4 linked regions of the Homo sapiens genome follow. The protein of the gene in region 2 interacts with the protein of the main gene of each other region in a pairwise test. Each region holds a gene or a part of one and is shown on either strand. Other genes may lie near its edges. The genes, in order: MEIS2, PTK6, ZNF341 and DDX17.

Region 1 (7,024 bases), on a different chromosome or scaffold from region 2:
ATTTATTACTTTTATTTATTTACATTTTCAAATTCTTTTAAAGAATACTGAAACTATATTGGTACCTAATATTTTGCTTCTGATGCATTTCTCTCTGCTTTTCTCTCTCTCCTTGCATGTTCCTTCCTTAAACATGCACACACACGAGTATGCACACACACACACAATGAAGCTGGATACCACTTAATAAGAGTAGAGGTGTATGTGTTTTGGGGGTGTCAAACAGCTGTCACAAACTGTCACCTCCACAAGAGAAACCTTGGCATACAACAAATTAAACTACACTTCTTTTTTAGCTGTCATTATTCATAGCCAATAAGTTGAAATGCTCTCAGCATTTCATGTGCAAATAAAACCAAGAGGAAGCTCAGATCAGAATAGTGGGCCAACAGATAAAACAAGAAAACAACGCGCTGTCTGGGCCTTTCTGAAGTGGCTCATCATCACCCCTGCACCAGTGTTCACCAAATGAGATCCAGCCTGGGGCAATGTATTAAATATGCATATCAAAGCAAATGAAAAATAAACCTGAAGATTCAAATTGGGCACATTTACATGCTGAAAATGTCCCACTCACACCACTTTTCAGGTAGTGGTTCTTTGTTATTTTTACTTTGTGTTTGGCTAGGGGGTTGAAGGAAGGCAACTTTGTAGAAGAGGCTGAAAAGCATAAGAGGATTTGCTTTGAAGGGGGAAGCCTGGACATGAATACAATCAATACACCTATGGTACAAAAGTCTCAAAAATGGTGAAAACTCTCCAAGGTTTTCTCTCATGTCCCTGCATAAAATACAAGTCTGTGGCAAATCTCTCCGTTTTCTACTTGGTGTGCTGGTGGAACAAATTATTGCTTCCTTTCAAAACAAATAGCAGGGGGCTAAAGTAAAAATGTTATAGTTCAGATCTCTAGGAAATAAAAGGCTTTAAATTATGACACCCAATGAAGTGGCAAGCCCTCATGGGTTCAAAATAAATCAGTTGTCATATTTACTTGACTGGGGGCCTGAAAGGAGAGCAACAAATGTTACAGTTGACTCTTTTATCCAAAGATGATGATTGATAAATTATTAAAGCACTATCCTCTTAGGTACAACTTCCTTCTTGAGTGGATATTTAAATATTACAATAGTCTCATAAATTGATATTGTCTATCAGCCAATACTTTAAACAGCCTATTTTATCTTATCTTTTCTATGTAAACATCAACATGGTCTAGCTGTATACATCCACTGGAAAAAGAGTTGCCAAGAAACTGTTTTAGAAAACTAAGTAGTAGGTACTCCTAGAAATATCATGAGAAAAGCTTTTGGCTCCGAGAACTGTGAACCTCTCATTTTACAAACCATGTAAATAGATCCCTCCCCAGTCTCCCAATAATGTGAATAAATATAAATATAGAAACAGAAAACAATGAAAATAAACACACAAAAAACAACAAATGTAAATATTTCTTAGGTAGTGTCATGCCTCATGGACCACAACACACTGTGGAGCCACAGATCAGCAAATAAACTTTCCATAACCACTGCTGCATCCTTTTGATTTCATTACATTCACTCAATATACAAAGGAGATCACCAAAGATTCCCTCACCATGATGGAAAAAGGTAAGGGTAAAGAGATAAGAATAGGAGCCTTCAACACCGCAGTATTTATTCTGTCACAGAACTGGATATCCCAGACTGCGGTTTTCTTTTCTAGACTTTTTCTAACTTTTGTTCTTAGGCTGGCTTCCCATACAAGTGCAAAGGTTAATTATGAAAATCTATGACTGCATATTTTCAAAACTTTTGTCTGGAGCAGGGGAGAGAAGAACCTCATAGAAGGTTTATACTAAGGCATCCCAATTCATTTCTCATACCAGTCAGGAATTGGGATGGGAGGTAGGGACAAACTGCCTTCAAGCCTTAATGCCTGTTTAACTCACACGGAGTGTCAAATTAATATTTCGGCCACAAAGTTATTAAACTACAGCTTATATTATTTAGGCTGTGAGTTCAACTGAATGTAATCTATAGACACCCTGTCCCCCATTTCCAGGCTTGAGTTCCTATAAATAAAACTGCTGTTCACACCCACTCTTTAACCTCGCCACTCTTGCCTTTCCTACCAGCTGCAATCTTTCTTCTCTTTGCTTCTTTTTCAAATTTTCAGTCTCACTACATATGCTTTTTTTTTTTTTTTTTTTTTTTTTTTTTTTTTTTTTTTTTTTTTTTTTTTAGCATCAGACTCACTAGATTGGTTCCAAAATAGGATTAGAAACAGAGAGAATAGAAAGAAATCTCCTTTCCTGGCCTGACATACACAGTCATTTCTTACTATACTCTCCATCCTCATTCACCAACTGTTAAAGTGTTAAAATTCAACCACTAACCTATGGTTACTCAATCATAATTCCCTTCAGCTTTCTGTAATACATTGTTAATAATTGGTTCATCAAGGTTACTGTCTTTTATTATGAAGATGCTTCAGGCATTTGGCAATAAGTCCCTATTCTGACAATAAGTTTCTATAGCAAAAGCCCTGAGAATTGTAATGTGTTTGTTCACCCCTTTTATTTCGAATGCAGTGCAAGATTGCCAATAATTCTCAGAATTGTCATCTCTGTGACATACTAGGAAATCAGCACTCACTCAATTCTCTTTCATTCAGTCCTCTCTCTCCAGACCAGTCCAGCTAACTGTCTTGCTTCTTTCTATCCCTGCTGCACTGATTACACAAAATTAAGAAAGCAGAAAACACAGTGGTGACTATATCAAACAGAATTTGCGAACACCCAAGTCACCAAATCCAGAAAACTTTACACATTAAGAGCACAAATCACTCTATCAACTCTGGTTTTTTGGCTCTCAACATAAATAGGAGGGGGTCCAAGAAAGGAGAAATGAAAATGAAGGGTATGGCAGAGAAAGCAAGAAAGAGAAGAAAAGACCCCAAAAGAGACGGAGTCATTTAAAAAGAAAACTAAATCAGTGGAGCTAGATGTTAAAACAAGGTTAAAATAATGCTTTGCCCAGTGGCCTTAAAAGATTGCTAAAGGCTAGCAGACTTACATGGTCAGCGAGATTTGTGGAGGAGCCTGAAAGTTCTTCATGATCTGACTTGGAGCTGCCGTCTCTTTCATCAATGACGAGGTCGATGGGCATTTTCCCCTTCAAACAGCTAATGTATCGGTGGCAGAAGTTATCGCACAGTTCGTGGACCTAGAACGAAGGTCATGGTGGAGGGTTTAGCTCATGTTGTTGTTGTTGTTGTTTTGTTTCATTTTTAGAAAGGAAAAATACCAGGTTGCAAGGTTACATTTGCAAAGAGCAACAGTGTGATGTCTTCCAAACTAACTCTAATTAAAGGGTGTAATAGTTGAAGGCAAGGAAACAATAGAGTAATTGTTGCAGCAGATATTATTCTCCAGAGACTTCTCTGAGCAACAAGTTACAATAGAGAGAGAAAGAAACAGGACTGGAAATAACTGGGTTCAGAGTGGGAGTCCAGGGAATTAAATCTGATTTGATAATAACATCAAAACATTACAACATTGGAGCTGGGGAGAGCATTAACGTTTGTGATTTTATAAGCTAGGGGTTTCGTATGTTTCCAGGGGAAAGTAATTGAGCTGCAGAGCAATGTAAAGACACCCAGCAAGGATGATTCACTCTGCCTGCACCTAATGCAAACCCAGGGCCGAGGGTGAGCTGAGCTAATAAAGATGCAAGCAGGCTGAGTGTCCAGTAACATAAATGGTTTGCTGCATTTCAAAATAATCCTGAATGCCTGAGGGGAATATTGGGGAGGAGGAGGCTACTTTAAAGGCAAGGCTGTCCTGATTCACCCACCCTCTGAGCCCCTGTGTTGAGAAGCGAGTTGAAGGATGGACATGGTTACATGCTCAAAATCTCCAGGTGCTCAATCCCTCACACTAGAGGTTTGTTAAAAACATCCCAACTCAACTAGGAGAGGGAAATGGTTTAATCAACACGGGGAGCGTTATTTCCTGCTTACCTTTTCTAACTCCAAAAGATGAAACCTTAGTACTTGTATTGCTTGTATCATCTGAAAGAAAAGTTCAGGGAATGGAGTTAGAGCTCTGTGACTCTGAGGTCCTGTCTTGGGGTTGGGAGTGGGGTGAGGATGGTGGTGAGAAAGTTGGGCTGGGGAGAAGAAACGGGCAGGTGGCCAGGAAAAACTTAAACATCAAGAAATAGTCAGAAAAATCAAGTGATTACTGATCATCTCTGCCTCATTGGCCACGGGGTAGGAATCTGACTCAACCTGAGCATAAGCATTAATATCTTTCCCCCTGATGTTCACTGTGCTATTTGTAAGACTGCTTTCCTCGGGCCAGGCCTTTTTTCTCCTCTTAGTCCTCTTTAAACATCCCCTCCCTCGACCTCAGGACAACTTTTTTTTTTTTCCTTAAAAAAAAAAAAAAAAAAAAAAGGTCCCTTCTCAGGATAGAAAAAGCTTTTTAGAACAGCATACCCAGCGAAATCCTTCCTCACTAAAGAAGGAAATACTCAAGATGAATGCTGAGGCAGGGCCTTTGAAAGCGGATTTAAGTACTTTTAATATTGAAATCGTGCAAATTAGCAAAAGAATCGCACCTAAAAGTGGCCTGCGCTGGCCTGCCCCTCACCGCCCCCCAGCCCCCACCCCCAGCCCGCCCTCAGCCGTGCCAGTGGTTACATCCTTCGGGTTAGCCGCCCGGGGCTCGGCCGCCTGCCCCGGCAAACAGAGGAAATAACTCACTTCTCGCAGTTTACTCCTGGGGCCGAGACCTGGGAAACATCCCCTGCTCGCGCTCTCGGCGCTCGGTCTCCCGTTTCGGCCTCCCTGGGCTTCGCTCCCCACCGCGTTCATCCTGCTCCTCGCTCGCCAGCTCCCGTGCGGGGGCTCTAAGCTGCTCCCTTCCTCCCTCTCTCCCTAGAGCTCCAAAAGAGGGTTCTGTTCTAACTCCCCAGAGCTCCAGCAGAAAGTGGGTGCTTCTGGGCATGGGAGAGGGCAAAGGCTGGGGAAAAACAAGGAACAGAGAGCCTTACCAAATTGTCCAGCTCTGGATTTGAGGAAAAAAGTGGCTTTTCGGCGCGAACCTGTAAGAAACAGAGAGTCAACTTGAACGATCACCCCATTTAAAATAAGAAAGCTGAAATGTGAGAATGGGTACGGTGGAGGGCAATGGCGGAGAAGAGGAAAGGGGCTTTGGCAAAATACAAGAAAGAAACTGGTGCCTTAAATTAGTGGAGTCCCTGAAGAAGAATCAGGGCATTCTGGTCCTGGCCCCATTAAGGGGGACCTGGTACGACTAAGCTGTAGCCAGGAACTCAGGGTCGTTCTCAGGGCCTCGAGTTCCATATCCAGCAGTCCAAGAGGCTGTGGCTCTCCACTGCTGCCTGGGACCGCTCGGAGAGGCGCCCAGCTTCCTTGCCTCCCGGGCACTCCCGGGTCCCTCACAGCCCCTCTCCCCAATTCTTGTTCAAGTAGCTGGAGGCGGGGGAAAAAGGCCAAGCCCCAGATTAGGAGCAGGTCAACTTTAATTCGAGGGTCGACCCCTGTATTCCTGCTGGGGGGGAAAACAAACACCCATATTTATCTCCACTTCCAATTCGCCCCCAGGCTCAGGGATGGGGAGGAGGCGTAGAGAGCGGACTGGGCCAGAGGAACAGATAGGGTGTCCCTGGCCTTTCCTCCTTTCAAGTAAAGCTCCGAGGAAAGGGGAGGGGTAGTGAGGGACTGCCCGAAGTTGAGTGGATCAAGAAGGCTGGACCTGCTTGGCGAAGACCGCGATGTCCTCGTTGAAGGAGTCGGAGGAGCAGACGTCTCCGCCAGCCACTCCAGGTTCCCGGGGAGTGCAGGTCGCCAGCTCGCACTTCTCAAAGACCAGAGCTAACAGAGGAAACAACGGGTGCCTAACGGGCAGCGCCACGCAGAGACACACACACAGAGACGGGGTGCAGAGGGGAAGGAGCAAGAACTGTAATCAACAAGTTTGGAGGGTGTGGAGTCCTTCTTTAATACAACAGGCACGCACCACACTTTACAACCCTTCCTCCATCAGGCGAGCCTAAGCCAGAAACAGAAAGGGAAAAGGGCCTGGCCCTCTCCCGCAGCTCAGAGGTCCCTCAGATCTGGCCAGAGAAGACCCCGGCCACTGCAGCCCGACAAATAAAAACAGCCTCAGTTGGAACGTAATGAAACATCCGAGACGCTCAGGCAGTCTGGAGCCCGAGTCGATTCTGATCCACTCCCCACACTACGGAGGCCGCGGAACCAACCCCTGAGACCCAGCCCTGACCTCCCAAGAAGGGAACACTGTGTGAAATTGAAAAAAAAATAGTTTTAACTCTGCATTTTAATGGGCATTTCAGACGAGGCCAAAGGCTTCACCTACATACACACCGGAGTGACACTTCATAAATGCAAGAGAATGCTCTTTTAATCTCTCCACCTCCTTGCCTTATAAACTTGTTTGCTCCTGTTCTACTAAAGCCACAGTGTGGGGGCCAAAATAATAGGAAGGTTACACACTGGAGAGCTTCCTTCCAAAGACCACATTTCTCCCAGCGTTGCAGCAGACAAAAATAAATAAATCGTGTTTTAAAACTTTAAGTGTGCGTGCGCGTATGCCCTTTGTGTTCCTCCGGGCGGCTTAGCCACACTTCGGGATGCTTGCGGCCTCTGGCTTGGGGCTCAGTTGCTGTTTACCCACTGTCCCCTCCCCTCGGCATCCCGTCGCTTTGCCCACCTACCCTCAGCCGGAAGAGCTCGTGTGGTACACGTTAGGATCGTGCATCTCACCCCTCGCCAAGTGCTCTCAGAATATAAAATAATTTCCAGCCATCTTCCTTACTCCCCCTAAGAGCGGCTCCAAGCAAGCAAGAGTCCCTTCCACCTCGCTGCACTTCGAGGTCTGCCCCCTTTATTTACAGAGAATTAAGAAGTGGGTGATTAGGACTTCCTGGCCGACAGAAGCAGCCCTGATCCCAGCTCAAGCTGCTGTTAGTGACTCCCAGACCCTCAGTAGGAAACA
Region 2 (6,880 bases):
ACGCCTCCCTGCGTCCCCAGCCCTGCTGGCCACACCTGCGCAGAGTTTCTGGGTCCCCACAGTTGCTGTTGGTGCTTCCTCAGTACCACCCCTGCCTCCCCTCCCTCAGAACGGCTCCCTCCTGCCCTGCACGCTCTGGCCAAGCTCTCTGGCCCCTCCTGCCCCCGTGCCAGGCAGCCAGTGGCCTCCGCCTGGATGGCAGCTGCCTAAAATCCCAGCCATGCTGAGATCCTCAGGGGCAGGGATGGGGTTTCTCTGCGCCCCGCACACCCCAGGCTCAGGTCTCATGCTGGGCGAGGTTCCCATGGGTGCTGAGGACCTCCCACGAGTGCCTCGGGCAGGGCTGGCTGGAGAAGCCCCTGCCCTCCCAGGGAGGGGCCCTGCCCCACGACTACCCTAGCAGCCAGTGACCCAGGCCCCAGGGAGGAGCGGGCCAGGTGGGCGGAGGGGATGGGAGCTCCCTGGAGAGGAGCCCATGTCCCCCGTCTCAGCCAGAGCGAGCCGGGTTCACCACGTGGCTGGGAGGGCTTAGAGCCAGGAGCCCCCGCAGGCAAGCACAGGCTCGGAGGCCGGGGCCGCACCCGACAGGACGTAGTCGGCACTCGGCTTCTCGCTGACCCTGATCAGGAAGGCGCCCGTGGCGTTGCCCTCGGCCTGCAGCCGACGCACAGCTTCCGAGCGGGAGATGCAGCCAAAGAACCACCTGCAGGGGAGGAGTCTGAGAACACGCGGACCTGGGCCCACCCCACGTGGACCCCACGCTGGCCCCAGCCTGCCCGCCTGGAACCCCAGCCGCCCTTGCCTGCCACCTCAAGCTCCCAGCCCTGACCACAGCTGCTCTCAGGAGCTGTCGCTGACCCAGACGCCCTGAATGTCCCGAAAGGCCAGGACAGGCCCCTGAGGACCCGGCGGGGGCAGGGGCAGGCGCTACCACACCCTGCCCTGAGTGGCCCGAGTCTAGGGGTCAGAGCCTAGGGTGGAGCTGGGGAGGGCAGCTGAGCAGGATGGCTGCCCAGAGCTGCCTGCACACACCCATGTGTGACGCACGCTCACACACACACAGTCACAAACCCCCACACATGCGCACAGTTCACCCGCACACCTGAACACACACGCGCATGTGTGCTCACTTGCCCACACGCTCACACGCACGCACACACAGCCACTCGCGCGCACTAACTCCCGGCTGCGGGGTGTGGGCCAGCCCTGGACTGTGGACTTCCAGGTGGAGCTTGCAGAAGCTCCAGGTGACCTGCGCCCTTTGTGTGTCTGACTCCCTCAGGTCACTGGAACACAAACCCCACACAGAAGACCACGGCCCAGCATGGAGCCCCTGGGGTCCACCCCCTCCACTTCCGCACACCTGGAAGCACTGCCCCACCTGCCCCTCCAACCACCTGGCCTCCCGCCCCCCCCCTCACCTGGCCTCCCGCCCCCTCCTCACCTGGCCTCCCGCCCCCTCCTCACCTGGCCTCCCGCCCCCCCCCTCACCTGGCCTCCCGCCCCCTCCTCACCTGGCCTCCCGCCCCCTCCTCACCTGGCCTCCCGCCCCCCCCTCACCTGGCCTCCCACCCCGTCCTCACCTGGCCTCCCGCACCCCCCTCACCTGGCCTCCCGCCCCCCCCTCACCTGGCCTCCCGCCCCCTCCTCACCTGGCCTCCCGCCCCCTCCTCTCCTGGCCTCCCGCCCCCTCCTCTCCTGGCCTCCCGTCCCCTCCTCTCCTGGTCTCCCGCCCCCCCCACCTGGCCTCCCGCCCCCCCTCACCTGGCCTCCAGCCCCCCCCACCTAGCCTCCCGCTCCCCCCCCCACCTGGCCTCCCACCCCCTCCTCACCTGGCCTCCTCCCCACTTCTCACCTGGGCGAGTTCTCAGGACTCAGGGTCTTTGCACCTGGGAGCTGACCAGCCTCCGGCCAGACCCCACCCCTGCACCCCTGCTCACTAACGAGGTCGTGGGTCTGCGCGTGACCCTGCTAACGAGGTCGTGGGTCTGCACGTAATAGAGGGGTCTCCACCATGGGCCCCTGCCCGACGGCCTCTTTACAGCCTCCCCTGCTTGTTGCTTGGGTCCCCCGGGAGCTAACCCTACACAGCCTGTGACTCACGCACACACACAGTGGGTGCCCAATCACTGATGAGAAACGCGGGATCTCAGGAGCGTGACCCTCCTCAGCCTGAGCTCCGGGCAGCTGTGGAAGCCAGGGCCAGGCCACACCAGCTGCTGTCTGGTTCCCCGCAGGGCACAGCAGGCAGGAAGTTTGCCCGGCAGCCGGCCCGCTCCCCTAACTAGGTCGTGTGTCTGGTTCCGGCACTTTGGAAACTGGGCAAGCTTCAAGCTTCGTTTCCCCCAAAGGCCCTGGAACGCTCCGACAGACCTTGTCACTGGCCACCGGGCCCCAGAAGTCCACCCTGGACCCTCTGTCCTCCCTGGGTCCCGGCAATGCAGCGTCCACCCCCGAGCTGTGACAAGGATGAGCCCAAGGCAGGGGCCGTGCCCTCTGACCCCCGTGCTCCAACTCCCGCAGGGACAGTCCTGGGCACTCCTGGGCGCCAGCGCATGGGGCCTGCAGGGAGGATCAAGCGGGATGCCCAGCCTGGACTTTGGGGTGCAGGAAGATGGAACCGGGGTCCCCACCTTCTTGGGCCTCCCTGAGCAGCCCAGAGCCCTGTCCCTCCCCTGTGCCTAGAGGGTGGCCTGTGCCAAAGCTCCCAGCAGCCTAGGACACGCACGGTTCCGACTCCACCGTCTCCCTCTCGGCCAGGTAGTTGTGGGGCACATAGCCCTGGGCCACGGCCCCACCCGCCTCGTCCAGCAGCGTGGCCCACCACCACTGCTCCTCCTTCCTGGCCACGTGGAAGACGTCCCCCGCGCGGAAGCTCAGCTCCTCGTCCGTCCGGGACTTGAAGTCCCAGAGGCCCACATACTTGGGGCCCAGGTGAGCCTGGTCCCGGGACACCATGGCGGGCGGGCGCAGCGGCAGGACCAGGCTGTGGCCCAGCTGGAGCACCCAGAGCTGGGCGTGGCAGGCGGGCCGTCCCACTTCCTCATGACAGGCCGGGAAGCAGCCACACCCAGCACCCACAGGCGCTCCAGAGCACCCCGGCTCCTCCTGAGGGCCCAGCCGGCCCCACAAGTCCTCAGGCCCACTGGGGCCCATCTGAGCACTTAGCGCCCGCACTATGGGAACCCACTGGGCAAGCACCGCCAGGGCCGGCCTGAGCGCAGGAGAGGGGGAGGAGGACCTCCCGGTTGGGGCTTCTTGGGGGTCCAACTTATGGACACTCAGGCACTCAGGGAAGCCAACGGCCCTCTGGGAACAAGCCTCGCAGCCTGAGGGCAGGAAGGTGAGGGCTGCAGGCGCTGCCTTCCCAACCCTCAGAGCTGCGGGGGCACAGGTGGGGGCCGCCTCTCTCCCCGCTTCCGGCAGCTTCCCCTCCACCCGTCGGTGCCCTCACCCAGCCCCAGACTCCACCCCTGAGCACAGGGCCCAATGTCAGGAGCTGCTGTGGGCAGGCGTCCTGAGAGCGGCCTCATGGGCAGGCCCGCCCTCGGGTAAGGGCCAAGCAGGGAAGAGGGAGTGGAATCAGGGCAGCGACAGCTGTGTGGGTCGGCCCGGAGGACTTCCCGGAAGAGGAGGGCCCGAGGGTTTTGGGGGATCCCCGGGGAGGCAGAGCCAGGGGCACCCACGGCTGAAGAAACGGGCACTGCCTTCCTCCACACGGACGCCAGGGGGCAGGCAAGGACCGTGAGTGCGGCCTGGAAGCGCCCATGGCGCTGGGGCCCAAGGCCACAGGTCCCTCCCAGGCAGCCCCTCCCGCCTCCAGCCTCTGCCTCCTCCTGTCCAGCCCGCAGGACCCCTGCCCCCTTCCAGCTGGCCTCCCTTCTCCCGACTCATGCCTGAGTGAGCCCTGCCGTGACCCCCACCTGCACCCGACGGCCGCCTGCCCCCCAGCCCCTGAGACTCGGGACACCCCCTCCCTGGAGGCCCCTCCCCGCCCCACCCTCCCACTGACCCTACTGTGTCCACCCGGGAGCTCCAACCCAGGGACCTGGACTGGCAGCCACAAGGGGGCAGGAAGGGGCGGGAAGGGAAATTCAAAGTCTGCAAGGGGTGGTAAGGAAAGTCCCTAAACTGCGTATTTCAACTTTTATTTTTATTGCAAAGAGAAATAATGGCACCTTCCACTCATTGTTTTGAGATTAAGAACAATAATCTGGATTATTTAACAGGCTCATAGATTTCTGGGCAGCCCAGCTCAGCGCTGACCAAGGTGGGGAGGGGCAGCGGGGTGCCGGCCTGGGCAGTGTCCCTCAGGCCCTCCCAGCTCTGTCTGGGGTCGGTTGGGGAGGATGCAGGGGGAGGGGTGGGGGGTGGGGAATGCGGAAGGAGGGTGCCGGGGCACCTGGCCGGGCAGCGTCCCTCAGAGCCCGGCCAGACTCTGGGCCCGTGAGTCTATGTCCAGGAAGCCTCGAGTATCCCTGAGTTCGGACGTGCAGGACTTTCAGTCTAAGCCACACCAGGAGGCAGGAACGTCCCCAGCCCCTCCCAGATACCCAGGAGCACCAAACCTGTTCAGCTGGTGGCTGGCGAGATGCCTAGGAGGGCACAGGTGCCACAGACACACCTGGTCCCCTTAATCCCAGTGGCGGCTGCAGAGAGCACAGAGGGCGAGGCCTTCTGTGCCAGAGGAGCCCCCAGGCTGCTGTGCTGGGGACCTGCCAGAACTGGAAGCTCAGCTCAAGGCCTCAGTGGGCCCAGGTACCAGAACCAGCCCCTCCCCTAGGTTCTCCCATGCAGATGGAGCTGGGCAGGTGGCCAGGGTCCCAAAGGCTCAGATAAAGCCTCTTGCCTCCACCATCTGCAGGGGTCCTGGTTCCTGCTGCTTCCCTCCGCTTGGCCTTGTTCCTCCGATGCACGGGCCCCAGGAAGCCCCCGCGCTGCCTCCGTTCTCGGAGCCTCCGAGTGGCCTCTTCCTTCCCCGGGGCCACCTGTCTCTGCACACGGGAGTCTCATCTCTTAGCTCCCTCCTGAGCCAGGCTTTGGCCGGGGCCTGTGGACGGCAGCCATCAGCACTTCGGCTCAGCAGGTACAGAGCTGACCCCAACTCTAGGGGACAAGGACTCAGTCAGGCCTGAACTTGTCTCCAAACTTTCTGTCCCCGAAAGCCTTCTGGGCACAGCTGCCAACCTGGGCTCCCAGGAGGGTGGGGGGCAGGGTCTCCGGGGGCCACAAACAGACCCCACCGGCCCCCTTGCTTCTTGACGTGTTTCACGAAGACCTGAGCAGAAGCTTCCCTGAGCCAGACGTGGGGAGACGAGGGCGGACCCTGCACATCCCTGCCCCCTCCTGCCTTGGTGACCCCCGAGGACTCACACCCAGAGGCTTCCTGAGCCACTTGCTGCCCAGCATACCATGGCATCTACCTCCGAGCCCCCAACCGACCCTGCCTGACCCTGCACAGGCAGAAGACTCCAAATCCCCCACGGCCCACCCTGAGGCCCCTGGAAATAGCCTCCAAGGGCAGCTCCCAGGTCACCAAGCCTCCCGGCCCACCCTTCCTGTGCCACCTGGAACCCACCCAGGGAGATGGAATCGGCAGCTCCTGCCAATGCCCTTGGGGCTCACGCTCTCTGGGCACCATGATGTCCTGGGCTGGGGGTCCGGGCGGCATGGGGGCCGCTCCAACCTGCATTTTCTAGCCACGTGGACCCGTACGCTCCAGCTCCTGGGTCTGGGTTTGGGGGGCTGAGCCTGTGTGTGATGTGCGCCTGTGTGCGTGTCTGAGTGGGTCAGTCCCGGCTTACTGAGTGCTGTGTGCGTGAGTGGGTTTGTGCACAGGCCGCCAGTGTGTCTGTGAGGGGCAGGTGACGGTGCCACCCCGTGCCTACATACCACACATCCAGTGGGGTCAACACCACGGTCTGCCTGGGAGTCAGCACTGGTCATTTCCACAAACCCAAGCTGGGACTAGGGAGAGAACTGGGCCTTTGGCTCTTCACCCTGGGAGGGAGTCCAGGGGACCCAGGCAGGAGACACACAGGGCTCAGGGTTCCTCACCCAGAGCCTCCGAGGCTTCTACCCACCCTCCTGTGCCGTTGTCTCTCTTGAGAGGCCAGGGACACGTGTCACACTGCACGGGGAACGTCAGCCCCAGCCCTCCGTCTGCACGAGTCACACTGCACGGGGAACGTCAGCCCCAGCCCTTCGTCTGCACGAGTCACACTGCATGGGGGACGTCAGCCCCAGCCCTCCGTCTGCACGAGTCACACTGCACGGGGGACGTCAGCCCCAGCCCTCCGTCTGCACGTCTGCCTGGTGCACGAACATGTGTGCACGCCAGGGCCTGAGGCCCACAGCCAGAGGCTCCTCGGTCCGGCAGACCGGCATCCCTTCGAGTTGGCGCTCTGCAGGGAGGAGGGGCTGGCCTGGCTGGAGCCCAGAGCGTTGGGTCACGTGAGGACTCAGGGGTGGCATCTGTGGATGGCGTGCAGCTTCTCCCGCAGCGTGGCGAAGGAGGGCCGTTCCTCGGGGCTGCTCCTCCAGCACTCCAGCATGAGCACGTAGACCTCCGCCGGGCAGGCAGCCGGGCGCGGCAGCCGGTACCCTCGCATGATCTGCTGCAGCGTCTCGTGGTTGGTCATCCCTGGGAGGCGCGGGGCAAGAGCTGCCTCGATTCTGCCTGGGGGTCCCTATGGAGGAGGCCTCCTGTAGCCCCCCATGTCATCTGCCTGCCCTTGGCCAGACCCTCCAACCCCTTGCCGACAGCGTCCAGGCCCGGGGCCAGTGACTCCTGGGCAGAGCCTGCATCCTCCCTCTGGCTGCCTGGGGACCCACCTTCATAGGGACACTGGCCATAGGTGAAAACCTCGTGCAGCAGGAC
Region 3 (7,024 bases), about 30 Mb from region 2:
AATCTTGTAGAAACCATGGTAAACTTCAACAGCTAGAACCAAATCCCAAGTACTCTCATAAGATTCCTATGAGGCAGAACAATTGTCCCTATTTTACAGGTGTAGGAACTGAACCACAGAGAAATTCACTCACTTGCCCACGGTCACAGAGCTAAGAACTATAAGAACAATAATTCAAACCCAGCCATTTATCTCCCTGCCCCTAGTGTGATTCCCAAGTACACAAAAATGTTTGTGGAATGAATAAATGAACACAGTCTCACATAGAAACTTCCAAAAGAAGGCCCTTACAGGCCAGGTGCAGTGGCTCATGCAGGTAATCCCAGCACTTTAGGAGGCTGAGGTGAGCAGATCACCTTAGGTCAGGCGTTTGAGACCAGCCTGGCCAACATGGTGAAACCCCATCTCTATTAAAAATACAAAAAATTAGCCAGGCGTGGTGGCGCACGCCTGTAATCCCAGCTACGCAGGAGGCTGAGGTATGAGAATTGCTTGAACCTAGGAGGTGGAGGTTGCAGTGAGCCAAGATCGTGCCCTGCACTCCAGCCTGGAGGACAGAGTAACACTCTGTCTCAAAAAGAAAAAAAAGAAAAAAAAAAAAAAGAAGACCCTTACAGGCCTGGCCCAGTAAACAGGAGCAATTCATGCTCAGCCTATTCTTTCCACAGAAGGGAGGCTGAATAATCACTTCCAGGGCAAAGGCACAGGCATTGTTGTCAGGCATTGGGGCCCTTAGCCATTCCCTGCATCTTGATCCCATCTCCCCACATTTACTAAGCAATTGAGAGCAGTGTCCTCAGAGCTAAGCAGAGAAAGCCGTGAGCCCAAAGATCCCGGCTGGGAGGCGGGGGAGAGGGTTCAGACACCAGAGCATGTCCTGGGGACCACAGCAAGCATTTCACTCCCACAGCCCAGCACAAGCTCCACCTACTCTTCGCGGGGAGCCATTCACTCTCCCACCGGTGAACCTGAGCAGATACTCACCCAATGGCTGGATAGCAGGGGGCGCATTGACACTCTGGCCTGTCGGATCAGGGACTGCTCCTTGGCCATCCAATAATGACTGGACAGCCAGAACGGTCTGATTGTCCATTCCTGAAAAAAGAAGTGCAGCCTCTTTGGAAGGTAGGCCCAGCATCATGCTCTGACATCACCCTTACAAGCCAGACCCAGGCAAAACCCCTGTGGCGGCTGGGTACGGTGGCTCAGACCTGTAATCCCAGCACCATGGGAGGCTAAGGTGGGAGATCGCTTGAGCCCAGGAGTTTAAGACCATTCTAGGCAGCAACATAGTGAGACTCCACCTCTACAAAAAAATACAAAATTTAGGTAGGCTTGGTGGTGCATGCCTGTGGTCCCAGCTACTAGGGAGGCTGAGGCGGGAGGACTGCTTGAGCCTGGATGGTCAAGGGTACAGTGAGCCATGATCATATCACCTCACTCCACTGTACTTGCTCTTGACAGAGCAAGACCCTGTCTCAAGCAAGACAAAACCCCATGGCAAGGATGGCCGGCTATGCCCCAATATACATTCTCTTCTATTTCCATTGTGAGAGAGCCCAAGATTTTGGGCTGCAAAGATGGCCCCCAAATAAAGGTTACACTTCCCAGGCTCTCTTACAGTTAGGGAATGACTAAGTTCTGGCCAAAGGAATGTAAATGTGCTATGTGGCAGCTTCTGGAAAGTTTTCTTAAAACTGCCTGATATGTGACCCTCTTCTTTGTCCCATCCTCCTTTCCACTTCCCAGAATAAGAATATGGTGGTAGCAACTCAATCCACCATCCTGGATCATAAGGACAACCTTAGGATCGTAGGATAAAAAGCTGGATGGAGCCAGGCGCAGTGGCTCACGCCTGTAATCCCAACACTCTGGGTGGCCAAGGCGGGCAGAGCACCTGAGGTCAGGAGTTCGAGACCATCCTGGCCAACATGGTGAGACCCTGTCTCTACTAAAAATACAAAATTAGCTGGGCGTGGTGGTGTGTGCCTGTAATCCCAACTACTTGGGAGACTGAGGCAGGAGAATCACTTGGACCCAGGAGGCAGAGGTTGCAGTGAGCTGAGATCCTGCCACTGCACTCCAGCCTGGGCAACAAGAGCGAAACTCTGTCTCAAAAAAAAAAGCTGGATAAATCCTGGGCCTCTGAGAACCTTGTAGAACACAGCCATCTTCCTATCTTAGACTGCCTTCCTCTGGACTTTCATGTGAAAGAAATAACCTTCCAGCCTGTTGAAGCCACTGTGACGTGGGGCCTGTCTTACTCATGGCTGACGCTAATCCTAGGTGACAAAGTCCCTCCAGAAATCACGTTAGCCAGTTTTCCTCATGCACACTCCCCAAACCCCACAAATCTGTGTGCACGCGGGCGTCCTTGCCTTCCTTATTTCTCAATGTGTGTCTATCTTTTTTGTTCTGCAATAAACAATAGACTCTGAATTGGTGGCTGGGGGATCGAGAAACTGACTTCTTCCATGTTTTCTAATCAGTTATCACAGTTGAAGTTCACAGTAGTACACTGTCTGGCCATGTCACTAGCCGGATGACAGGCCTCCTCACATCTCAGTGGCCACCAAGGCACACTGTGCCACTCCCAAAAGACCCAGATGGTGCCTCCTCTCTATGACCCCACAGCCGATGCTCTGCCTCCAACCTCTCAGCTTTTACTGGGATGTCTTCCCCAGCTTCTAACTGCAATGCAAATTGAAACCATCAGACCAGTTATCTCTGGCCGGGCATGGTGGCTCACGCCTGTAATTCCAGCACTTTGGGAGGCAGGGGCGGGTGAATCACGAGGTTAGGAATTCAAGACTAGCCTGGCCAAGATGGTGAAACCCCATCTCTACTAAAAATACAAAAATTAGCTGGGCATGGTGGTGGGTGCCTGTAATCCCAGCTACTAGGGAGGCTGAGGCAGAGAACTGCTTGAACCCGGGAGGTGGAGGTTGCAGTGAGCGGAGATGGCGCCACTGCACTCCAGCCTGGGTGACAGAGTGAGACTCCGTCTCAAAAATAAAATAAAATAAAATAAAAAATTGAAACCATCAGCTACTGCAGCCAAACTGAATCCATGCCTTCCCTTGTCACAATGCAGGCTGTGTCCCTCCTGACGCTGCCAGCGCAGCCCTCCCCTCCATCTCCTCCTGCTCCTCAGAAGCCACTCTCCACCAACTCTCACCACACTGTGCCTGGGAACCATCCACAGCTACACACGATCAGTCTCTCCAGAGTGCCCTCCTGCAAATTCATGTTTCCATCTCTCCTCCCTTCAATGGCAAGTATCCCATGAGGGTCACCTACACCCTCTATCTCTTCTACCACCTTCCAGTTCTCCTTCCCCACTCTAGTGGGACTTAAGCCCTCCACTATCTGGAACCACCTTTGAAAAAGTTGCAAAGTGAGAAAATCATGACAGTGAAAGACACCTGACCTAACGAACCCCCATCTTGCCTTTAACCTCCAAACTGCCCTTAGTAATCCCTGGGCTTGGGCCAAGATAACTAGGGAGAAATTTAGTTTACAGTTTAAATGATAATAGCCCTTCCCCAAAACTAACCCTCCTTTGTGAAGCTAATGAAAGACCATGAGGTTAGGAGGATAAGAGGAACCTACATTCTGGTAAGGTGTAGACATAAATATTACCAGCCATTATTCCAGAGATCACAAGATTTGCAACTTCCCCAATTACTCCTGCATATAATATTATTATCATTATTATTATTTTGAGATAGAATCTCCCTATGTTGCCCAGGACAGTCTCAAACTCTTGCACTCAAGGGATCCTCCCACCTTGGCCTCCCAAAGTGCTGGGAATACAGGCATGAGCCACCACGCCTGGCCAACTTTTTTTTTTTTTTTTGAGATGGAGTTTCACTCTTGTTGCCCAGGCTGGAGTGCAATGGCGCAATCTTGGCTCACTGCAACCTCTGTCTCCCGGGTTCAAGCAACTTTCCTGCCTCAGCCTCCCGAGTAGCTGGGATTATAGGCACACGCCCCCATGCCTGGCTAATTTTGTACTTTTAGTAATGACAGGGTTTCTCCATGTTGGTCAGGCTGGTCTCAAACTCCTGACCTCAGGTGATCTGCCCGCCTTGACCTCCCAAAGTGCTGGGGTTACAGGTGTGAGCCACCGCACCTGGCCCCAACATCATTATTATAGAACCTAAGATTAGCCTTTTGAGATATCTTTTCAGATTTTTGCATTTCTGACAACCAATGGCTCCACGTAGACTCGCCAATGAGTCCTGCAGCCCCACCCAGAAGCAGACTCTGCATGTAGGAGGACCATTTTCCACAACTCTATGATTGCACCTCCAACCAATCAACAGCACCCATTCCCTTGTCCCCCAAACTATCTTTGAAAAAACCTAGTGTCTGGCTGGGCATGGTGGCTCACGCCTGTAATCCCAGCATTTTGGGAGGCCAAGGTGGGCAGATCATGAGGTCAGGAGATCAAGACCATCCTGGCTAATACGGTAAAACCCCATCCTTACTAAAAATATAAAAAATTAGCCGGGCATGGTGGCAGGTGCCTGCAGTCCCAGCTACTTGGGAGGCTGAGGCAGGAGAATGGCGTGAACCCAGGAGGCGGAGGTTGCAGTGAGGTGAGATCACGCCATTGCACTCCAGCCTGGGCAACAGAGCGAGACTACGTCTCAAAAAATAAAAAATAAAAAATAAATAAATAAATAAAAATAAAAAACCTAGTCTCTGAATTTTCTAGGAGGCTGATTTGAGTAATAACACAATTCCAGTCTCCTGTTCAGCTGGCTCTGTGTGAATGTAACTTTTTCTCTGTCGCAATTCCCCTGTCTTGATAAATTGGCTGTATCTGGGCAGCAGGCAAAATGAACCCATTGGATGGTTACAGTTCCACCAAAACACTTTCCCCATCATCACCAAAGACCATCTGGCAGCACCTGCCACTCCCTGAAACACTCTGTTCTTGGCTCCAGGGCACAGCCTTCCTGGGTCTTCTCTACCTTTCTGTGCCTCCTTTACTCTCTTCTCCTGGCCACCCCCTAAGTGTTTCCATTTTGAGGAAACACTTTGTCCTTTGTTCCTTTGTCTGGACTCTCTCACCTCTGCCTCTCATGCTGTCCCTGGGCAGTCTCACTCACCCCAGTCTACTTCCTTCCAATATCTGGAGTTTCAAGCCTGGGGTTCAAGCTCTCCTGAACAAGCTTCAGTGAATCTTCTACCATTTTATGCAAAATTGTGAGTGTTTTAGCATTTGTGTGCAAATCTGTATACAAATGTTCATAGCACTTTTAGGTATAACAGTAAAAAATTTAGCCTGGGCAACATGGTGAAACCCGTCCCTACTAAAAATAGAAAAAATTAGCTGGGTGTGGAGGCACGCACCTGTAGTCCCAGCTACTCGGGAGGCTGAGGCAGGAGAATCGCTTGAACTTGGGATGTGGAGGTTGCAGTGAGCCAAGATCATGCCACTGCACTCCAGCCTGGGCAACAGTGAACACTTTGAGATGGAATCTCCCCATGTTGCCCAGGTGAAAACCTGGTGGTCTTTCAATAGCTTTACAAAGACAGTTTAGTTTTGGGGAAGGGCTATTATCATTTAAACTGTAAATTAAATTTCTGCCGAAGTTAGCTTGGCCCAAGCCCGGGGATGACTAAGGGCAGTTTGGAGGTTAAAGGCAAGGTAGGGATTGGTTAGGTCAGGCGTCTTTCTCTGTCATGATTTTCTCACTGTTACAATTTTTGCAGAGGCAGTTTCAGAATGGTGGGGGGCTTAAGCCCCACTAGAGTGGGGGAGGAGGGCCAGAAGGTAGTAGAGGAGATAGAGGGTGTAGGAAATGGTTCAGAAGAACATCTGAACTGTTTCCAGTTTTTACTTTTTTTTTTTTTTGAGACAGGGTCTAAAAAAAAAAATAGTAAAAACTGGAAACAGTTCAGATGTTCTTCAGTGAGTGGTTAAATGGTGAAATAGCCATACTATGGAATACTACTAAGCAATAAAAAGGAACAAACTATTGCTATACACAACAACTTGGATGAATCACTAGGGAATTATGACGGGTGAAAAAAGCCCATCTCAATGGTATACACTTTATGATTTCATTTATATAGTATTCTTGAAATCACAAAATTTTACAAATGGAGACAGATTAGTGGTTGCCAGGCATCAAGGATGGTGGGAGAAGGGGAGGATTTAGGGTGTGGCTATAAAAGGGCAACTCCTTGGAGTGATGCCCCTGTTCTGTATGTTGACTGGTGGTAACACACTGTAGTTGTGCAAAATGTTACACCAGGGGAAATGGGGTCAAGGACACGTGGGATCTCTCTTTATCATTTCCCACAACTGCATGTGAATCTACAGAAAAAGTGATTTCAAAATAAAAAAATTTAAACAAATGCAGGGTGGGTACAGTGCCTCATGCCTGTAATCCTAACACTTTGGGAAGTCAATGCAGGAGGACTGCTTGATGCTAGGAGTTCAAGATCAACCTGGGCAACATAGCAAGACCTCATCTCTAGAAAATTTAAAAAATTGGCTGGGTGTCCTGGCACGCACCTGGGAGGCTGAGGTGGGAGGATCACTTGAGCCCAGGAGTTTGAGGCTGCAGTGAGCTATGAATGCACTACTGCACTCCAGCTTTGGAGACAGAGTGAGATCCTGTCTCTACAAATAAAAATAAAAAAGGCTGGCTGGACACAGTGCCTCACGCCTGCAATCCCATCACTTTGGAGGCCAAGGCGGGCAGATCACTTGAGGTCAAGAGTTCGAGACTAGCCTGGCCAACATGGTGAAACCCCGTCTCTACTAAAAAATACAAAATTAGTCAGGCGTGGTGGTAAGCGCCTGTAATCCCAGCTACTCAAGAGGCTGAGGCAGGAGAATCGCTTGAACCTGGGAGGCAGAGGTTGCAGTGAGCCAAGATCGCACCACCCCAGTCCAGCTTGGGTGACAGAGTGAGAGTGTCACAAAAAAATAAAAAATTAAGTTAAATTAAATTAAAAAGGCAGCCTGGGCCAGGCTCAGTGGCTCATGCCTGTAATCCCA
Region 4 (7,024 bases), on a different chromosome or scaffold from region 2:
CCAGCAAGCATTTACTTTGAGGATCATATTGGTCCTCAAAATTTGGATTTGTTTTGTTTTCTGAGACAAAGTCTCACTCTATCGCCCAGGCTGGAGTGCAGTGGTGCAATGAAGGCTCACTGTAACCTCTGCTTCCTGGGTTCAAATGATTCTCCTGCGCCTCAGCCTCCTGAGTAGCTGGGACTAGAGGCAGGCACCACCATGCCCAGCTAATTATTGTATTTTTGTAGAGATGGGGGTTTCCCCATGTTGGCCAGGCTAGTCTCGAACTCCTGACTTCATGTGATCTGCCCACTTTGGCCTCCCAAAGTGCTGGGATTACAGGTGTGAGCCACCATGCCTGGCCTAAAATTTGGAATTTTGGATGGTCATCCTGACTTAAACTGGCAGAATGACACATTCCTGACCTCTAATTTAAGCACATCACCAGGTAGATAAGGCAAAAACAATGAAAATTTACATGTAATCTGACAAGACTGTGTACAATCTGGCCAAATAATACAAAAATCAAGGTATCATATACCATTCAAATTAAATTATGAAACTTGCTTTATATACTGATCCATTAGATATCAACTAATAATAATGCTGTCAGACATATACTATGTATTATAAGTACTGCATTATTTCTTTTTGTGAATATCTTGAGACATATTGTACATGTTCATAAATATATAGGACAAATGCAAGCTTATTTCTTAAAAAAGTTAAGTAGGCCGGGCGTGGTGGCTCACACCTGTAATCCCATTATTTTGGGAGGCCGAGGCAGATCACCTGAGGTCAGGAGTTCGAGACCAGTCTGGCCAACATGGTGAAACCCCGTCTCTACTAAAAATACAAAAATTAGCTGGGTGTGGCGGCGCATGCCTGTAATCCCAGCTGCTTGGGAAGCCGAGACAGGAGAATCGCTTGAAGCCAGGAGGTGGAGGTTGCAATGAGCCGAGATTGTGCCAATGTACTCCAGCGTGGGCAACCAAGAGCGAAACTCCATCTCAAAAAAAAAAAAAAAAAAAAAAAAAGTACACATTCAATGCCAGGCGCGGTGGCTCACACCTGTAATCCCAGCACCTTGGGGAGGCCGAGGCAGGCAGATCACCTGAGGTCAGGAGTTCCAGACCAGCCTGGCCAACATGGTGCAAACCTGTCTCTACTAAAAATACAAACATTAGCTGGGAGTGGTGGTGCACGCCTTTAATCCCAGCTACTCGGGAGGCTGAGGCAGGAGAATGGCTTGAACCTGGCAGGCGGAGGTTGCAGTGAGCTGAGATCTCGCTACTGCACTCCAGCCTGGGCAACAAGAGTGAGAATATATCTCCAAAAAAAAAAAAAAAAAAGAAAGAAGGCTGGACGCAGTGGCTCATGCCTGTAATCCCAGCAATTTGGGAGGGCAAGGTGGGCTGATCACCTCAGGTCAGGAGTTTGAGACCAGCCTGACCAACACGGAGCGAACCTCCATCTCAAAAAAACACAAAAAATCAAAACAAAAAAACAAAAAAAACCACACCAAAACCAGAAAACACTTGATTTACTGCACAGTAAATGCCCATACAGCATGCATGGTTTCTTTAAGAGTAAGACTTTGGTTCAAATGTAAGCTCAGCTATTCAATTGCTGAGTGATCTTGGGTAAGTCATTTAATTCCAAGTAAGATGAGAATGAAACCATTTCCACCTATGGAGGGTGTGGTTAAGAGTACAAATGGATAATGTAAAGCACCAAGCCTAAATAGTCGCTAAATTGTAGTTTTTCTTAGAATTACAAAGAAACTGAAACACACTTACGATTGGGCCATCTCCCCTTTCCAAGTATGGCTGGTGGTTAATATGAACAATTGCAGGCAGGAGATACTGTGGAGGGGGGAAAGAATGACAACCTTACGCTTAGAAGTACAATCTTACTTAGATACTTAGTAATTACTGAATTAATGCATAAATAGGAAAGTGAAAAACAGAACTTACCACTGCTATATACAGGAAGCAATACAAATTTGAACATAAAATGCTTCCATATATTTAATAACTAAAATAGTATCTAACTATCTGAATGGCACTTCTACGAAGAACTGAGAACGTATGACAACTAGAATAGCAAAATAAGTTACCACAATATCAAGGATCTTCTCTTGCTCATACATACCGCCAACGTCTTCCCAGAGCCAGTCTGAGCAATGCCCACCATATCCCGGCCACTAAGAGCCAACGGAAATCCCTGGCACTGAATTGGAGTTGGTTCTGTAAAGTGCTGATCCATCAACACATCCATTACATATTCTGTAAGAGAATTTTATTTTGCGTATTTTATTGTGTTTAAAGACACAAACCAAGAGTTTTTAAAAAAACTTTTAAGCTCACTGAAGATAAGATTTACCCAGCTTCATCTCTCCAAAGTGCTTTTTCTTTATCTACTAGATCTCCGACCAACTCACTGTTAGCTTCTAAGGGCCAGGCTAGGTGGCTCACGCCTGTAATCCCATCACTTTGGGAGGCTGAGGCCAGTGGAGGCCAGGAGTTCCAGACCAGCCTGGTCAACATGGTGAACCCTGTCTCTACTAAAAATACAAAAATTAGCCAGAGTGGTGGTGGGCCCTTGTAATTCCAGCTACTCGGGAGGGTGAAGCAGAATCGCATGAACCCAGGAGGCAGAGGAGGTAGTGAGCTGAGATCGCGCCACTGCACTTCAGCCTGGGTGACAACGTTGAGACTCCGTTTCCAAAAACAAACAAACAAAAGCTGCTACAATAGTCTACCTCTCCCAGAAATTTGAAAAACCATTACCCTAAAGCATCTAACAGGACATGGGAACATGGTAGTCATTTATTGTTTAGCAAATTCACATTATATCCAGCTAGAAAGCAATTTCATTCTGCTGTTTTCTAAAAGGCAGAGGGCAAAACCCTAGAAAAAGACAAAAACCTCAAAAAAACAAAACAAAAACAAAACCTCAGTCTAAATACTAGAACAGAACTGATGACCATAAAAACAATCTCTTGTCCTTTCAACAAAACCCCAAGCCTGGCTCAAAGAGTTTAACCTACTACCCTTGTCTCCCATTCAACCCAATTTAACAAATTAAGGTTCTAGATTGAAGAACACTTACGTGGGAAGTTAGCATGATGGAAGGCAAACACGGGTTTAGGACAAACATCTCCCCCCCTCACTGTAATCTCCTTCTTTCGGCGTAGCTCATCAACCTCATACTATTGAAAAAAAATGAAAGAAGTTAGTAAACTAGTTATTCTAAACATTCAGAATTTATGTTCCAAGCTAGCTGAGCAATTATCCAGTCCACAGCTATGTTGGCAAATATTTAATAGTTTACATGGTACTTTCATGTGTATCACTTTAACTCTGCAAGGCTCCTACTTACTTTGTAAGTTAATTAATGATGTAGGTGATTAAGAGTTCCATTTTCTATAGGAGAAAAAAGATAAGTAACTTGCTCAAGGTCAGAATGAGAAGGAAAAAAAAGTGGAACTTGGACCCAAGTACTCTTTCCATTACACTTTCTTCTGAAAGAGTAACCATTTCATGTGTAGAGTCCAAAAAACAATGGTAATGAGGTACAAGAAGAGACAATGTTGGCTGGGCACGGTGGCTCCCACCTGTAATCCCAGCACTTTGGGAGGCTGAGGTGGGTGGATCACTTGAGGTCAGGAGTTTGAGACCAGCCTGGCCAACATGGTGAAACTCCGTCTCTACTGAAAAAAAAAAAATAAATAATAAATGAACCAGGCGTGGTGGCACATGTCTGTAATCCCAGCTACTCGGGAGGCTGAGGTGGGAGAATTGCTTGAACCTGGGAGGCAGAGGTTGCAGTGAGCCAAGATCATGCCACAGCACTCTAGCCTAGGGGACAGAGTGAGACTTCACCTCAAAAAAAAAAAAAGCCAATCTATCTTTTTCACTAACAGATGAAAAAACATGACCTAATATACAATATTTCAATCATGTATAATAAACAGATTAGTAAGCATTATCAACAAGAGAACAAATTAAATGCATATTTAAACTGGTCCCCTTTTATGAGTATTAGGGGTCTTAGATAAGAATGTAAGAAAGGCTGGGCATGGTGGCTCACACCCATAATCCCAGCACTTTGGGAGGCTGAGGCGGGCAGATCACAAGGTCAGGAGACGGAGACCAGTCTGATCAACATGGTGAAACCCTGACTCTTGCACTCCAGCCTGGGTGACAGAGCAAGATTCCGTCTCAAAAATAAAAAGAGGCTGGGCGTGGTGGCTCACGCCTGTAATCCCAGCACTTTGAGAGGCTGAGGCAGGTCGATCACCTGAGGTCCGAGGTCCGGAGTTTGAGACCAGCCTGCCCAACATAGTGAAACTCCATCTCTGCTAAAAATACAAAAAATTAGCCGGGCATGGTGGCGGGTGCCTGTGATCCCAGCTACCTGGGAGGCTGAGGCAGTAGAATCGCTTGAACCCAGGAGGCGGAGGTTGCAGTGAGCCAAGATCACACCATTGCACTCTAGCCTGGGCAACAAGAGCAAAACTCCGTCTCAAAAAAAAAAAAAAAAAAAAAAAAAAAAATCAGCTGGGTGCAGTGGCTCACGCCTGTAATCCTAGCACTTTGAAAAGCTGAGGCAGGTAGTTTGCTTGAGCTAGGGAGTTCAAGACCAGCCTGGGGAATATGGCGAAACCCGGTCTCTACAAAAAGGAAAAAAAAAAAAAAATTAACCAAAAAATTTTTTAAGAAAAATATCACCACACTAGAATAAAATGTAAAACGGCAACAGTAGCGTATGAATAAACTCTAACCAATATATCTACTTGGTTCAATAATCTGTACATTAAAACACACATGTAAACTTACTGGTGTCAGCCTTGCTACTTCCGGATGTTCCACATAAAAATTTTTCTCAAACTTGGGGAGCTCACTCAAATCCCACTTTTTTTTACGCAAACGCTCCCCAGGATTACCAAATTTCTTCGGGGGAAGGCCACCACCACCTCTTGCTCCAAATCTAGGAACAGAATTTTTAGTTAGTTCATCAGTATTTTTAAAGCAACGTATCGTACATGCCATAAGAATATTCAAAAAGGATGGAGTTCTAGGGATACTACCAGCCTACCTCCAAAAAGACCATTTTATTTGCTGTGATTTAAAGGTATGGAGAAATGTGTAAAACCTCCCTTACTACCCAACAATAAATACTGTTTATGAATATAGCTACAATAGGCAAAAAATTAAAAATCCCTTTATTGAGAGAAATACATCCTAGGGATTACAATCACAGATTCTGGATCCAGACATGGTTTGAGTTTTTATTCTGCCACTTACTGTATAATTTGAAGAGAATTATTTAACTTCCACACACCTTAGTTTCCTATGCAAAGTAGAAATAATACCACTTATTTCAGAGGCTGCTGAGAAAATGACCTAATAATGTGTAATGTACTATAAAAGTATCTGGCATAGCCAGCACTCAGTACAAGTTAGCATCATTTCATTCAACAAATAGTTATTAGGTACCAAGTTACTAGGTACCAAGTATGTATCGGCTACTGTTTGAAGTGGTGCTGTGCTGGAGTTACTAAACAAAACAGACACAAGTCTCTATTTTTGTGTAACAGACATGCAGGCAAAGGATGACATTAAGTTAAGTTTCAATTAAAGGGAAGATTGTGGACAAGAAGGAAGATACACTCCAAGCAAGTCCCTCAATCTTAGAATAGCTTCTTGGGCCTGCTCCCCTATTAAACTGTGATAAGCACTCCACCTGTCTGCTTATCTGCAAAGCAAAACTGGGTCTTGGAAAGGACTGGTAGACTGGTCTTCATTTTTAGCTTACGCTAATAAAAGAGCTGAGCCTGCCGGGGGCAGTGGCTCAGTCCTGTAATCCCAGCACTTTGGGAGGCGGAGGCCAGTGGATCACTTGAGGTCAGGAGTTTGAGACCAGCCTGGCCAATATAGTGAAACCCTGTCTCTTACTAAAAACACAAAAGAGTAGCCAGGCGTGGTGGTGCACGCCTGTAATCCCTAGCTACTTGGGAGGCTGAGGCAGGAGAACCGCTGGAACTCGGAAGGCGGAGGTTGCAGTGAGCTGAAATGGCACCATAGCACTCCAGCCTGGTAGACAGAGGGAGGGTCCGTCAAAAAAAAAAAAAAAAAGCTGAACATAGATTTATGACCTTTCCTTCTTCTTTGATCTCTACTTTTACCTTCTATCTCCTTCTTGTTCCCAAATGGTATTATTAATTTACAGAGAAAAAAACACTAACAAGACTTATTTAAGGCTTTAACACTCAACTAATTACTTAAGATCAACTTCTTGCTTTTTATATACCTTTCACAACAGACAAGCTCAAGAGGAATACAAATATGACCACTAGCCAAAGCTAATATTTAAGAAATCAGAAGCTACTTTTCCTAGAAGAATCTTAACACTAAGATGGCCTTAATTTTCCCTATTTCGATCTTGTAAAGTACAGGTCTTTGTTTGGCATACAAACTGTATAGCATTTTCTCAGTTTCTTTACTCCTTGTAAAATATTGTACTGAATTTAGTTCCCTTTTCCCACTCTAACCCACTTGTAACTTCATCTTATATAAAGTTCCACTTTATCATTGATAGGCAAGTAGGTGTATTATTCTACAGGGCCTCAATTTCCTGCAATTCAAAGCCATTAGAACTCTGGCTTAACCAGCCAGACATTCCTCTAAATACATACGTAACAAAAATTGATGGCAGGAGATTTTATTGGGATCACTGGATACCTACACTCAACAGGCAGAACTTGGCTAATTCCATTTATACCACTACTGAGACAGTGAAGACAAATTAAGAATCAGAACAGGAAGAGCACATAGCATAGGGATACCCGTGTCAGCGACATATTTAATATGCCCCTCAGCTTAAGACTCAATACTGAACAGACCAAAAGGCCACCTCAATTGCCGCTCCCGCCACACTTGCAAATGAAGCAGCTAAATAAGGTACTTTTCAAGAGGTAGAAAGTCTTTGGATTATCACTCTTGCAAATTATAAAAGACTTCATTGTTATTGCCAC

The links.
Region 1: the proteins of PTK6 (region 2) and MEIS2 interact in binary tests that used the Homo sapiens proteins (3 or more experiments, as listed by UniProt).
Region 3: the proteins of PTK6 (region 2) and ZNF341 interact in binary tests that used the Homo sapiens proteins (3 or more experiments, as listed by UniProt).
Region 4: the proteins of PTK6 (region 2) and DDX17 interact in binary tests that used the Homo sapiens proteins (3 or more experiments, as listed by UniProt).

The regions. Positions count from the first base shown.
Region 1 is NC_000015.10:37,090,528-37,097,551, forward strand, and holds part of MEIS2 (homeobox protein Meis2), read right to left. Parts: intron 5,904-7,024; coding exon 5,762-5,903; intron 5,088-5,761; coding exon 5,037-5,087; intron 4,051-5,036; coding exon 4,000-4,050; intron 3,204-3,999; coding exon 3,054-3,203; intron 1-3,053. UniProt on the Homo sapiens protein: Involved in transcriptional regulation. Binds to HOX or PBX proteins to form dimers, or to a DNA-bound dimer of PBX and HOX proteins and thought to have a role in stabilization of the homeoprotein-DNA complex.
Region 2 is NC_000020.11:63,534,357-63,541,236, forward strand, and holds the start of PTK6 (protein-tyrosine kinase 6), read right to left. Parts: upstream 3,021-6,880; 5' UTR 2,959-3,020; coding exon 2,729-2,958; intron 704-2,728; coding exon 582-703; intron 1-581. Other genes in the region: tyrosine-protein kinase Srms, read right to left, coding at 6,462-6,643, 6,835-6,880. UniProt on the Homo sapiens protein: Non-receptor tyrosine-protein kinase implicated in the regulation of a variety of signaling pathways that control the differentiation and maintenance of normal epithelia, as well as tumor growth.
Region 3 is NC_000020.11:33,734,973-33,741,996, reverse strand, and holds part of ZNF341 (zinc finger protein 341), read right to left. Parts: intron 1,096-7,024; coding exon 985-1,095; intron 1-984. UniProt on the Homo sapiens protein: Transcriptional activator of STAT3 involved in the regulation of immune homeostasis. Also able to activate STAT1 transcription.
Region 4 is NC_000022.11:38,496,304-38,503,327, forward strand, and holds part of DDX17 (probable ATP-dependent RNA helicase DDX17 isoform 1 precursor), read right to left. Parts: intron 4,978-7,024; coding exon 4,827-4,977; intron 3,197-4,826; coding exon 3,097-3,196; intron 2,271-3,096; coding exon 2,137-2,270; intron 1,848-2,136; coding exon 1,782-1,847; intron 1-1,781. UniProt on the Homo sapiens protein: As an RNA helicase, unwinds RNA and alters RNA structures through ATP binding and hydrolysis.